Linked DNA regions of Homo sapiens. The protein of the gene in region 1 interacts with the protein of each later gene in a biochemical or structural test. Each region holds a gene or a part of one and is shown on either strand. Other genes may lie near its edges.

Region 1 (7,821 bases):
GTAAACACACCAATCAGCACTCTGTGTCTAGCTAAAAGTTTGTAAATGCAACAATCAGTGCTGTGTGTCTCGCTAAAGGATCATAAAACGCACCAATCAGCACTCTGTCAAAACGGACCAATCAGCTCTCTGTAAAATGGACCAATCAGCAGGACGTGGCTGGGGCCAGATAAGAGAATAAAAGCAGGCCACCCAAACCAGCAGCAACAACCCGCTTGCGTCCACTTCCCTGCTGTTGAAGATTTGTTCTTTCACTCTTCACAATAAATCTTGCTGCTGCTCACTCTTTGGGTCCCTGCCGCCTTTATGAGCTGTAACACTCACCGCGAAGGTCTGCAGCTTCACTCCTGAAGCCAGCGAGACCACGAATCCACCGAGAGGGACCAACAACTCCGGATGGAAGGAACAACTCCAGACGCACTGCCTTTAAGAGCTGTAACACTCACAGTGAAGGTCTGCAGCTTCACTCCTGAAGCCAGCGAGACCACAAACCCATCAGAAGAAAGAAACTCCAGACATGTCTGAACATCAGAATGAACAAACTCCGGACACACCATCTTTAAGAACTATAACACCGCGAGGGTCCACAGCTTCATTCTTGAAGTCAGCGAGACCAAGAACCCACCAATTCTGGACACACTATGACAACCACTATCTTGGAATATGGTGTTAATCACTACTATGCATATTTTAATATAGGTATCTATAAACAAAAGAAGTACTGTTTTGCATGTTTTTAGACTTTACCCCCATAGCATTATTCGTCTGTACCTTGTTTTCTTAGCTCAAGATTTTGTTTGTTTTTCAATTCAGTCACGTTGTTTCATGCAGCTCTAGTCCATTCGTGAGAACTTTTCGATAGTATTACATTTTATTAATATCACAATTTATTTGTCCATTCTCAAACTAATGGAATGGTTTTTTTGTTTTCTTATTTTTTGTAAAGAAAAGGTTTCACTATGTTGCACAGGCAGGGTCTCACTTGTTTTCAATTTTGTTATTATGAAGCTGCAATAAACAATTCTTGAGAACAATACTTATTTCTAGAATATATTCCTAGAAAGAAAACTGCTAGGTCAAAGGATATATTTAATATATACCTCCAACTTCATCAACTAAGTTGATCTACAAAATAGTTACATATTTTTACATTCCCACCAAGTGGTATAAGAGTTCCTGTTTCTCTGCAACAATTATCCATATTGTCATATTATTTTGCCAAATTGATGAACATAAAGTGGTACCTCACTGGCTTACTTTTTCCTGATTTGTAAGATTAAGTATCATTTATTGACCTTTCAGGTTTCCTCACGTGAAATGCCTATAAACAGTACTGCCATTTTTTTTTTTTACTGATTTGTAATAGTTATTAAGAGAGTCTGGGTATCAACCCTATACTGATTACATGTGTTTCTAAATGCTCTCTGCAAAAACAAAAAACAAGATAAACCTGTTACCGATTCTGAAATCTAGTAAAATGTAAAAGCAAAGCTAATTCCTGACTTTTCAAAGTTCACAGCTACTTTCCAGACCTTTATATCAGTGTTTCTGAAACCTTTCCGTCCACTCACAGAAGATGAATTCCTCATTCAGGGCCAATACACACATACTTACACATAAACTGAAAAACAAGGCTGTAAATCAATTTCTTCTCAAGGATGGGTGACGTTTTCATAACCACAAACAATATACAAGGACAGATTGTCTCCATTATATACAGCCAACATTTTGGCTCACATTTTGGCTGTTACGTACATACATCATATAGCTTTCACAAGGTTCAGTAAGCAAGCGTCTATTTTGATTAATAACGGTTAAAACCTTTAACACTTGATAAAAAACCATCATATCCATCAGGATGTTTGCAACAATAATGAAGAGTGTCCACTCTACCCAATGAATTAAGAATTAAAGTACAAGCTCAGACTAAGCAAATGAAATTTTTTATTTTCAGTCGCACTAGGATAATTTTTTACAAAGTTGCTCTGCATACATGAACTGATTCTGAATATTTTAGTGACAGACATCTCAAAAAAGTTTACTTCATTTACAGGAACACTATCAAATGTTTTGCAAAACAAAGACACTGCATTAGGGCATATAATCATAGAATAGGAAAGGACTTTAGGTGACTTACTCTAAATCTCTCCTTTTCAGGTAAGGCATCTGCAACGCAGAAGTTATAAGAAACTTGCCCAATTGAGACCCTCTAAAATCTACAAATTCAGAGTCTTTTCCACTGCATTACCCATCTTCTTATATTAGACTTCTAAAACTATTCCTCTATTAATTTCACAAGAATAAGTTGCTGCGTTACAGAAATGACGGAAGTAACTCCCAAACCCACACCAATCTTTTTCTTTCCACTCCCCTACCTTCTCCCTCCCTTATCCTCCATTATCATTCACAGAATGAAAAAAATACCTGACCACCTGAATTTCTGGCCCTAATTGGGTGTGGAGTCCCAACCCCCTGCTACTGTTTCCGTGTTAAGCTAACCGGAGTTTTCTTTTTTAATTATTCATTCCTTTATTCAATAAATATCTAAGCCCAGACTTTGCAGAAGCGTGGTGCACGCAGCTCCTCCAAGCCCGCAGACCACCGCGCGCTGGCATCCCGACGCCGGGAAGCCGGGGGCGCTGGAGAAACGGGGTTCCCGGGGGCGCCTGGAGGCCGGCCGGGTGGTGGGAAGCGGCCGACATAAGCGGTTGACTCACCTTTCCGCAGCTCCCGCTCCCACACGGTGACGATGGGACGCGAGTGTTTACGGTGGTGAATGAGCCACAGGGACAAGGTCTGCACGCTCTGCTGCGAGTTGCTCAACTCCGACAGCTTCTTCTCCAGCGCCGCCTCAGAGAAGGCTGACATCCCTCCGACACCACGTTCACGCCGTCCCACGCGGTGGGGCCGAGGGGAGGAGAGTTTCGCCGCCCTAGCTGCGGCCTCGCCCCCTCACCCCACCCTTCCCCACGCTCTCACCACGGCCGCCGCTTCATCCAAGACCGGCCGCAAACCAGCAAGATGGCGTCCGGCCGGCAGTGACGTCACAGGGACCCACGCCCCGCCCCTCCCGCTGCAAGCCCTGGGAAAACGCGCGGCCGAGAAGTGGAACCGCCAGGCGGAAGGGGCGGAGTCGAAACAAGTGCAGGGGAGGCGGACAGGGGCGTGATGCCTGGGTTACTCTCAGAGGCATGGTGGGAGTTTGCCAGGCCTGAACCCTCCTTAATGGAAACTCTGTCAAAGAAGCAGTGATTACAGATCTCTACATAGGCATGTAAACTGGTATAAATTGGGGCAGGCACTTTAAAGACTATTTGCATGACCAATTACGGTTAAAAATACACCTTCCTAAATAGAGTATAGGATGGTGACCAGAGGCTGGGAAGGGTAGTGGGGGAGGGCTAAATAGAAGGACTAATAGAAGGACTAAATATAAATAGGACCTAGTATTTGATAGCATGACAGGGGACTAGAGTCAGTAATAATTTAATTGTACATTTTAAAATAACTAAAAGGATAATTGGATTGTTTGTAACACAAAGGATAAATGCTTAAAGGGATGGATACCCAACTTTGCATAATGCGATTATTAGGCATTGCCATGCCTGTACCAAAATATCTTATGTACTCCATAAATATATACACCTACTATGTACCCACAAAAATGAAAAATGAATAAAAATTTAAAAATTATAAGAATACTCTTTCCTAGCAATTTCACTAATTGCTGTCAGTGCTGGAAAAAACACCAGCATGTTTGCACCAGGAAGCTTATTCTAGGTGTTCAGTCCAACACAGTAACAGTGAAAAATTGGAACATTCACTGTTGCAGTCTACACAGATACGTCTATATTCCATAATACATGCAGCAGTTTAAAATATGGATTAATCCAAGATATGGTGGATTTGGAAGGGTTTGAGTGGGTTTTTATGAGGTTCTTTTTGAGAGAGGGCCTCACTCTCACCCAGACTGGAGTTCAGTGCCATGATCACAGCTTACTGCAACCTCGAATTCCTGGGCTCAAGCATTCCTCCCACCTTGGCCTCCCAAAATGCTGGGATTACAGGTGTGAGCCACCATGCCCAGCTGGATTTTTTTTTAATTACAGAAGCAAAAGTATAGTATACCACTTCTTGTTTAAAGGTATGTAGTTCATATGGGTTCACAAGTACGTAAACTCATGGCAAAGGTTTGGAGGAATACACACCACATGAATACTGGTCTCAGGGAGAGGATCAGAATTGGAGCCCTTAAATTGTGTCCATATTGTTTTCATTTTTACAAAAAGAATACGTGAATATATTACTTATATAGTTAAAAATTAATTACAGAAATCTCATTGTTAATCTAATGCATACACCATCATATTCTAAAATTTTTTTTGAGACCGGGTCTTACTCTGTTGCCCAGGCTGGAGTATGTGGTTCAGTCATGTTCACTGCAGTCTCGACCTCTGGGCTCAAGCAATCCTCCTCTGTGTCGGCCTCCCAAAGTGCTGGGAATACAGTTGTAAGCCACCATGCCTGGCCCTAAATATTAATACAAGAAACTTCCAGAAAGATACATAAGAAACCATAGGAATTCCTAAACTATCTTTTGACAAGCATCGTTCAAGAACTTTGCGGCCAGATGTGTGGCTCATGTCTATAATCCCAGCACTCTGGGAGGCCGAGGTGGGAGGATTGCTTGAGCCCAGGAGTTAGACACCAACCTGGGTAACATAGTGAGTCCCTGTCTTTACTAAAAATTTAAAAATTAGCTGGGCATGGTGGTATGCGCCTATGGTCCCAGGAAGCTGAGGTAGGAGGATCACCTGAACCTGAGAGGCAGAGGTTGCCGTGAGTCATGATTGTGCCACTGCACTCCAGCCTGAGCAACAGAGCAAGACCCTGTCTCAAAAAATGAAAAGGAAGGGCAGGGCACGGTGGCTCAAGCCTGTAATCCCAGCACTTTGGGAGGCCGAGGTGGGTAGATCACCAGGTCAGGAGTTCGAGACCAGCCTGGCCAACATGGTGAAATCCCATCTCTACAAAAAGTACAAAAATTAGCTGGGCATGGTGGTGGGCACCTATAATCCCATCTACTCGGGAGGCTGAGGCAGGAGAATTGTTTGAACCTGGAAGGCGGACGTTGCAGTGAGCCAAGATCGCGCCATTGCACTTCCAGCCTGGGCAACAGTGTGAGACTACATCTCAAAAAAAAAAAAAAAAAGAAAAGAAAGAGAAAGAAAAAAGAAAAAGAGAAAGAACTTCCAACAAGTAGGAACAGAATATGTATATCTGTGCCTGAGGTTCAGAGATATCGTTGTAGAGGTGAAGTTCACTCTTCCTTCACCTCTTTTCACTCCAATATCTATTCCTATCTTTACATTTCTTTCTTTCTCCATTATACATCTTTTTGTTTATCCAATCTATTTAGCCTAGTTTTTAACTTTAACTTAGTTCGAGTTTAACCTATCTTTTTTTTTTTTAAAAGGAGACAAGATATCGCTCTGTTGCCCAGGATGGAGTGCAGTGGCATCATCACAGCTCACCGCAGCCTCAACCTCCCAGGCTCAGGTGATTCCCCCCACCTCAGCCTACCAAGTAGCTAGGACTACAGGTGTACCATCATGCCCAGCTTATTTTTAAATTTTTTTTTTTAGAGATGGGGTCTCGCCATGTTGCCCAGGCTGGTCTTGAATTCTCAGGCTCAAGCCATCCTCCTGTCCCTGCCTCCCAAAGTGCTGGGATTATAGAACGTGAGCTACTGAGGCTGTCCAAACCTATCTATCCCCTGAGACCTTAAAAGTATCTTCAACAATATTCCATTCCATTCCACCAAAGACTACTTCCCATCTCCCAGTGTCTTCACCTGAGATTTCCACTCTTCTCATTCTCTATCTCTGTCTTCCTCTGTGTCTCAATTCTACCTAAAATTTCAGCTTAAATTCTGCCTTAAATTTCAGCTTTCTTTTCTTTCCACTCAGTCAATGTTAGATTCCTTCCTTGTGTTTTTTAATTACTGAATGCCTTATTTAGCACTTACACTACTAGTCTATGTTATTTACAATTTAATATATGTATTCTCTCTCTCCAGCTAGATTTAGCACTCCGTGACTCAGTCATAGCACCAACTCTTCTGTCTTCCTTGGTCCACAGTCTAATCTGGCTGTCCCTGCTCCAGGCTCCCAGAACATTCTATGTATGAATGTACCATGGCTTTTGGCACTAGGATGTTAGATCTACATTTATTGACGTTGTTACTTATAGCTATATTTTCAAAATATTGACTGTAACTATTTATACCTTTAGATACTTATGACTCGTTTTTATATCTTGTCTCTAAATTGGAAAGCAGGAGGTAAAATGGTCTCCATTCACAGAAGATATGATCTTAGATATAGATCTTGAAGAATTCACCCACAAAATTTAGAGATGATAAACAAATTCAGCAAAGTTGTGGGATATAAGATCAACACACAAAAATGAGTTGTATTTATATACACTGATAATAAATAATTTGAAAATGACATTAAGAAAAAAATCTTATTTACAATAACATCAAAAAAGGCTGAAATACTATGGAATAAATTTAGGCAAGGAAGTATAAGACTTGTATCCTGAAAACTACAAAATATTGGTGAAATATATCAAATACCTAAATAAATAGAAAGATATCCTGTGTTCATGGATTGGAGGATTTAATATTCTTAAGATGGCAATAATACCCCCAAGCAATCTTCAAATTCAATGCAATTCATGTTAAAATACCAATGGCCTTTTATGCAGAAATGGAAAACCTGACCTTAAAATTCATATGGAATTGAAAGGAGCCCTGAATAATCAAAACAATCTTGAAAAAGAAAAACAAAGTTGGAGGATTCACAGTTTCTTATTTCAAAAATTACTTCAAAGCTACAGTTATATCAAAACATATATCAGGCTAGGCGTGGTGGCTCACGCCTGTAATCCCAGCACTTTGGGAGGCCAAGGGGCTGGGGGCGGGGGGGGGGGTGGATCACAAAGTCAGGAATTCGAGACCAGCCTGGCCAATATGGTGAAACACCGTCTTTACTAAAAATACAAAAATTAGCTGGGTGTGGTGGCGTGTGCCTGTAGTCCCAGCTGCTCTGGAGACTGAGGCAGGAAAATCACTTGAACCCGGGAGGTAGAGGTTGCAGTGAGCCAAGATCGCGCCACTGCACTCCAGCCTGGGCGACAGAGCGAGACTCCGTCTCAAAAAAAAACAAAAACAAACAAAAAAAGCACACAAAACAGTGTGGTCTAGGCACAGTGGCTCATGCCCGTAATCCTAGCACTTTGGGAGGCCGAGGCGGGCGGATCTGTTGAGGTCAGGAGTTCGAAACCAGCCTGGACAACATGGTGAAATCCTGTCTCTACTTAAAATACCAAAAAATTCTCTGGGCGTGATGGCGGGCACCTGTAATGCCAGCTACTCAGGAGGCTGAGGCAGGAGAATGGCGTGAACCCAGGAGGCAGAGGTTGCAGTGAGCCGAGATTGCACCAGTGCACTCCAGCCTGGGTGACAGAGTGAGACTCCATCTCAAAAAACAAACAAACAAACAAACAAATAAACAAACAAAAAACCAGTGTGATATATTATTCAGCCATAAAAAGAGATGAAATAATAATGCATGATACAAGACAGATTAACCTCAAAAATATTATGCTAGCTGGCACAGTGGCTCATGCCTGTAGTCCCAACAATGTGGGAGGCTGAGGCAGGAATGAACCCTTGAGGTCAGGAGTTCAAGACCATCGTATACAACACAGTGAGACTCCATCTCTACAAAAAAAGAATTTTTTTTAAGCCCAGAC
Region 2 (7,023 bases), on another chromosome or scaffold:
AAGAAGAACAAAGCTGGAGGCATCACACTACCTGACTTCAAACTTTACTACAAGCCTACAGTAACCAAAACAGCATGGCACTGGTACAAAAACAGATATGCAGACGAATGGAACAGAATGGAGGCCTCAGAAATAACACCACACGTCTACCACCATCTGATCTTTGACAAACCTGACACACACAAGCAATGGGGAAAAGATTCCCTATTTAATAAATGGTGTTGGGAAAACGGGCTAGCCATATGCAGAAAACTGTAACTGGACCCTTTCCTTACACCTTATACAAAAATCAACTCAAGATGGAACAAAGACTTAAACGTAAGACCTAGGACCATAAAAATCCTAGAAGAAAACCTGGGCAATACCATTCAGGACATAGGCATGGGCAAAGACTTCATGTCTAAAACACCAAAAGCAATGGCAACAAAAGCCAAAATTGACAAATGGGTTCTAATTAAAGAGCTTCTGCACAGCAAAATAAACTATCATCAGAGTGAACAGGCAACCTACAGAATGGGAGAACATTTTTGCAATATATCCATCTGACAAAGGGCTAATATCCAGAATCTACAAAGAACTTAAACAAATTTACAAGAAAAAAGCAAACAACCCCATCAAAAAATGGGCAAAGGATATGAACAGATACTTCTCAAAAGAAGACATTTATGCAGCCAACAGACATATGAAAAAATGCTCATCATCACTAGTCATTAGAGAAATGAAAATCAAAACCACAGTGAGATACCATCTCATGCCAGTTAGAATGGCGATCATTAAAAATCAGGAAACAATAGATGCTGGAGAGGTTGTGGAAAAATTGGAACGCTTTTACACTGTTGGTGGGAGTGCAAATTAGTCCGACCATTGTGGAAGTCAGTGTGACGACTCCTCAAGGATCTAGAACTGGAAATACCATTTGACCCAGCAATCCCACTATTGGGCATATACCCAAAAGATTATAAATCATTCTACAATAAAGACACATGCACACGTATGTTTATTGCTGCACTATTCACAATAGCAAAGATTTGAAACCAACCCAAATGCCCGTCAATGATAGACTGGATTAAGAAAATGTGGCACATGTATACCATGGAATACTATGCAGCCATAAAAAAGGATGAGTTCATGTCCTTTGCAGGGACATGGATAAAGCCGGAAACCATCATTCTCAGCAAACTATCACAAGATCAGAAAACCAAACAACGCATGTTCTCACTCATAAGTGGGAGTTAAACAATGAGAACACATGGACACAGGGAGGGTAACATCACACACCAGGGCCTGTGGGGGGTGGGGGGCTAAGGGAGGGATAACATTAGGAGAAATACCTAATGTAGGTGACAGGTTGGTGGGTGCAGCAAACCACCATGGCATGTGTATACCTATGTAACAAAACTACATGTTCTGCACATGTAACCCAGAACTTAAAGTATAATAAAAAAAATAATTATTAAATTTTAAAAAACTAGCCAGGCATGGTGCTGCACACCTGTAGTCCCAGCTACTTGAGAGGCTACATTGGGAGGATTGCCTGAGCTTGGGAGGTTGAGGCTGCAGTTAGCTGTGACTGTGCCAGTGCACTCCAGCCTGGGCAACAGAGCAAGACCCTGTCTCAAAAAAAGAAAAAGAAAAATTCAGAGAGATTAAAGAAGGTATCAAGAAATGTAGACACAATCCATGTTCATGAATTGGAAGATCAAATGTTGTTAAGATAGCAGTTCTCCCCAAATTAATCTACAATGCAATCCCTATCAAAATCACAGCAGGCTTTTTTGAAAAATTGACAAGCCAATCTTAAAATCTGTATGAAAACATAAAGGATTCAGAATAGCCAAAATAATTCTGAAAATGAAGAAATAATTCTGATCCAGAACTTACTACAAAGCTACATTAATCAAGACAGTGTGGTACTGATATAAAGATAGGCATACAGATCAGTGGAACAGAGTCCAGGAATAAACCTTCACATTTATGATCAATTAAGTTTTGACAAAAATCCCAATGAAATTATGGAGAAAAGATGGTCTTTTCAACAAATAGTGCTAGGATATTTGGATATCAAATGCAGAAGAAATTAATTTAGATTCTTACCTCCTACCATATGCAAAAATAAACTCAAAATTGATCACACACCTACATGTAAGAGCTAAAACTATAAAACATGTAGAAGAAAACATGGGAGAAAACCTAGATGACCTTGGTTTAGGAAGAATTCTTAAGACACTAATAGCACAATTCATAAAAGAAAATATTAATAAATTGGACTTCATTAAAATATAAAATTTTGTTTCAAAAAACTATTAAGAAAATTAATTGGCCCGGGGAGGTGGTTCACATCTGAAATCCCTGCACTTTCGGAAGCCAAGGAGGGTGGACCACTTGAGCTCAGGAATTTGAGACCAGACTGGACAACAGAGCAAAATGCCATCTCCACAAAAAATACAAAAATTAACCAGGCATGGTGGCGTGCTCCTGTAGTCCTGGCTACTCAGAAGGCTGAGGTGGGAGGATCTCTTGACCCTGGGAGGCAGAGGTTGCAGTGAGCCAAGATCACACCACCGCACTAGAGCCTGGGTGACAGAGTGAGACCCTGTCTCAAAAAAAAAAAAAAAAAAAAAAATTAATTGAAAAATCACAGACTGGGAGAAAATATTTTCAAACCATAATAAGTATCTGATAGAGGACTTGTATCTAGACTATGTAAAGAATTCTTAAAACTCAAAAATAAGGCAGACAACTTAAAAATGGACAAAATGTTTGAATAGATATTTCAGCAAAGATATACAAATTGCTTAGCATATGAAGAGATGTGTACTATCACTAGTCATTAGGAAAATACAAGTTAAAAGCAAAATTAGATACCATTTTGGACCCACTAAAATGACTATAATAAAAAAGACAGACAAAGATATGTGTTGGTGATGATGTGGAGAAACTGGAGCCCTAATGCATTGCTGGTGGGAATGTAAAATGGTGCAGCCACTTTGGAAAACAGTTTGGCAGTTTCTTAAAAAGATAAACATAAGTTTACCATATGATCCTGCTATTCCATGAGAAGAGAAGTGGAAATGTGTTCACATCAAGACTCGTAGGCAAATGTTCATAGCATTATCATTCATATTAGTCAAAAAGTGGAAACCAAATGACCATCAACTACTGGATTTTTTTTTTTTTTTTAAGAGATGAGGCCTCACTATGTTGCATACTCTGAAGTCAAACTCCTGGGCTCAAACAATCCTCCTGCCTCAGCCTCCTCAGTAACTGGGACTGCAGGCAGGCACCAACATACCCAGATTATTTCTTTTTCTTTTTTTTTTTAACTGGTGGATTTCTTTAAATGATATATGTATACAATGGAGTAGTGATATAGGCTACAATATGGATGCATCTCAAAACATTATGCTTAGTGAAAGAAGTCTGATGCAATATCCCACATATGGTATGTTTCCATTTACAGTCCAGAAAAGGCATATACTAAATTAGCAGTTGCATGGGTCTGATGTGAAAACATGGATTGCCTGCAGATGGGCACAAGGGATCTTTTGGGGGTGACAAAAATGTTCCAAAACTAAGTTGTAATTTTTGCACAACTTTTATGTGTGTGTGTGTGTGTGTGTGTGAGATGGAGTTTCACTCTTGTTGCCCAGGCTGGAGTGCAATGGCGCGATCTCAGCTCACCACAACCTCCGCCTCCTGGGTTGAAGCATTTCTCCTGCCTCAGCTTCCTGAGTAGCTGGGATTACAGGCATGTGCCACCATGCCCGGCTAATTTTGTATTTTTAGTAGAGACAGGTTTTCTCCAGGTTGGTCAGGCTGGTCTCGAACTCCTGACCTCAGGTGATCCTCCTGCCTCGGCCTCCCAAAGCGCTGGGATTACAGGCGTGAGCCACCACACCCAGCCATTTTTGCACAACTTTATAAACTTTAAAAATAATTGATTTATGCACTTAAAACAGGTAAAGTTTATGTGTATAAATTATACCTTAATAAAGCTATTAAAAGTCAAAGATTATAACAGGGCCTCTCTCTCTCTGACCTAGTGACCTAGGGTAAAGAGAAAAAGAAGCTAGCCAGGCACAGGGGCTCACACCTGTAATCCCAGCACTTTGGGAAGCCAAGATGGGCTGATTGCTTGAGTCCAGGAGTTTGAGACCAACTTGGGCAACATAGCAAAACCCTGTCTCCACCAAAAATAAAAAAAATTAGCCAGGCATGGCGGTGTATGCCTGGAGTCCCAGCTACTCAGGAGTCAGAGGTGGGAGGATCACTTGAGCCCAGGAGGCAGAGGTTGTAGGGAGCCAAGATTGCACCACTGCACTCCAGCCTGGGTGACAGAGCAAGACACTGTCTCAAAAATTAAAAATTAAAAAATGAGGGAAGCTGCTGTATCTCCACTTCTTCCCTCTCTGTGCCCAGAGATATCTCTTCAGTTATCTCACATGCCCTACAAGTCTAGAGACCTCAGGTGAGGAGCCAGTAGCTCAGTATAGAAACTAAGGATCCAAGTGGACAACTGCCACCAAGTCACCACAGGGCCAGCTGCTTTGGGAGGGTGCTGCATCTGCCTCCCATACACTTCTGCCAAGTTTATGTTAGTTTGGGAGGACTGAAGCAGAATTCAGTTCAAAGTACTGTGCTGGATTTTGGTTTCTAAATATTTTCCAATAGAAAAGAACCCAGGCTTCTTGAGAAAATAGCTAGGTTCTAAGGCTAGAGCCAAAAAAATGCAAGATAAGCCTGGAGCATCTTGTAGTACCAGAAACTAAGCAAGTGCTCAAAAACAAAAGGATAGAAGCATGTCAGACAGACACAGGAGCCAATCTGAAAGAGCTCCCTGGCCGGGCACGGTGGCTCACGCCTGTAATCCCAGCACTTTGGGAGACTGAGGTGGGAGGATGACTTGAGCCCAGGAGTTTGAGACCAGCCTGGGCAACATAGGGAGACCCCATCTCTACAAAAAAGTAAACAATTAGCCGGGCATGGTGGCACACGCCTATAGTCCCAGCTACTCAGGAGGGTGAAGATCACCTGAGACCAGGCGGTCAAGGCTTCAGTGAGCCATGATTGTGGCACTGCACTCCAGCCTAGGCAATAGAGTGAGACTGTCTCAAAAAATAAAATTTTAAAATAACTGAAGAGTATAACTGGATTGTTTGTAACACAAAGGATAAGTGCTTAAGATGATGGAAACCCTATTTATCCTGATGTGATTATTACACATTGCATGCCTGTACCAAAATATTTCATGTAACCCATAAATATATACATCTACTATGTACCCACAAAAATTAAAAAATGTTTACAGGAGTGAACCACCGCACCTGGCCAGTGGAGTCTTTTTAAGGTATTATTTAGCATCTTCTGCTTATAGTCATGTCCAAAAACCAGTTGATCTTCCTACTCATTAGGGGACAAGATCAATTCTCTAAAAAATTAACCTAGCCCAAGGTAAGTGGTACTATTCTGAAATCTGAAAATCTTTAGTAGCCTCACATTATAAGCCCTTCGTAGAAAAAGAAAAGTAAGCATTTCTAGAAGCACATTTTTGTTGGACTGAGGGTGGGGCAAGGAGCAGGGGTGACTTTCATCTGAAATGTACCTAGGCAGGCCAGAGTCTGAGTTAGGACTGGCTCCTGGGACTTTGCCATCCAGGCCAAGAAGCATGCTCCAGTGTGCATGCACTCTCATCAAAGCCCTAGTCAGGAATCCCAGCCACTCCTCTCCTGTGCAGCACAAGCTGAAGGATAAGGTGTGGGGCAGTGACTGCGTGGGGCTGCCTGTGTGATTCCTGATAAAGAAATGCCTTCATGAAATGTATTGTTCCCCAATAAAGCTCATTTTCTGTGAGAATTCATGTGTCCTTTTCCAAATTAAACTAGCAAAATATGAACTTTTGTAAAAGGTCCACACCCAGCCAGTTTTCTACTCTCTAAATGTTCAGGCCTTTGCCTGTCCTTCCCTCAGCAAAAATACTGTGTTTTGGAAAACATTACCAATAAAGGAGCTGGGAGGTGGAATTGGATCAAAATACCTTTAGATGAAAGCAGCAGCACAAGCCATTCCCTTTAAATGAGCTGGCCTCACCTCTGGGGCCTATGAAGAAAAGCCTGCTTCAAGGTGATAGTTTTCATTTTGCTTCCCAGCACCTCTGCAGTCATAACCAAAGTGAAGGACAATATTGCATGACTTCAGAAGAAAGCCATCCAGCCACCTTGCAACATGTTCAGGAAATTCTGGACTCCCTTGGGGCTTGCAAAACTCCCTATGTCTTGCAGACCAAAAGCAAGTTCTCAGTCACCTAGCTCTAGTTTGCATAATTAAAGAAAGTGGAAGCTGGTTCTTTTCTGGGTGACCCTTCACCCAACCAAGCTCATAAGGACTTGTGACAAAAATAAGAGCAATAAAATGAAGTTTTAACAGTGAAAACTTCTATCACTTAGATAAGCAGGAAAAGCCAGTCCCCTAGATGCCCATCTGACCCTACCTTACTGGGGTCATACAGCCAAAGCAGTGTCCACTTCAGGTACTGTAATGTTTTGAAGTTGACACATATAATTTAATGTAGTTTCATGTCATAAGTTATAAGACTTTTCAGAGAAACAATTTAGTAATATCTTCTGTAATACCCATCTTCATTTTTTATATGAAAAAGCATAGCCTATGATCTGTCACCTTGCTCACTCCCACATCCTTACCTCTTATCCTTCTCACATCGTCCCATTAACACATTATCCATCTTTGGGGGGAAAAAATACACTAAATTTTAGACAGAGTCACTTTCACTATGGCCACAATGGGAGAAAAGACAGTCCACCTTCAAAGTCAACCAGAATGACTCTTAACCTCTCTTGTCTGGGTTGGGCATCCAGATAAGATTTTCTTCGTACAAAGAGTCTTGCTACTAGGAAAAAGAGTTTGAAAATCACTAGTCTAACTAAATATCTCACTTTAAAAAAAGCACAAACTAAGACTCAATGAGGTTTATCTTCCACAAGATCAGCCAGTTTTAGCAGAGCAGTT

Evidence for each region. Proteins that work in one complex are often made in the same cells at the same time.
Region 2: the proteins of RPRD1A (region 1) and RPAP2 interact in a biophysical measurement, tested with the Homo sapiens proteins (one study listed by IntAct).

What each region holds. Positions count from the first base shown.
Region 1 is NC_000018.10:36,064,537-36,072,357, forward strand, and holds the start of RPRD1A (regulation of nuclear pre-mRNA domain-containing protein 1A), read right to left. Parts: upstream 3,024-7,821; 5' UTR 2,869-3,023; coding exon 2,718-2,868; intron 1-2,717. UniProt on the Homo sapiens protein: Interacts with phosphorylated C-terminal heptapeptide repeat domain (CTD) of the largest RNA polymerase II subunit POLR2A, and participates in dephosphorylation of the CTD by RPAP2.
Region 2 is NC_000001.11:92,393,036-92,400,058, forward strand, and holds part of RPAP2 (putative RNA polymerase II subunit B1 CTD phosphatase RPAP2), read left to right. Parts: 3' UTR 1-7,023.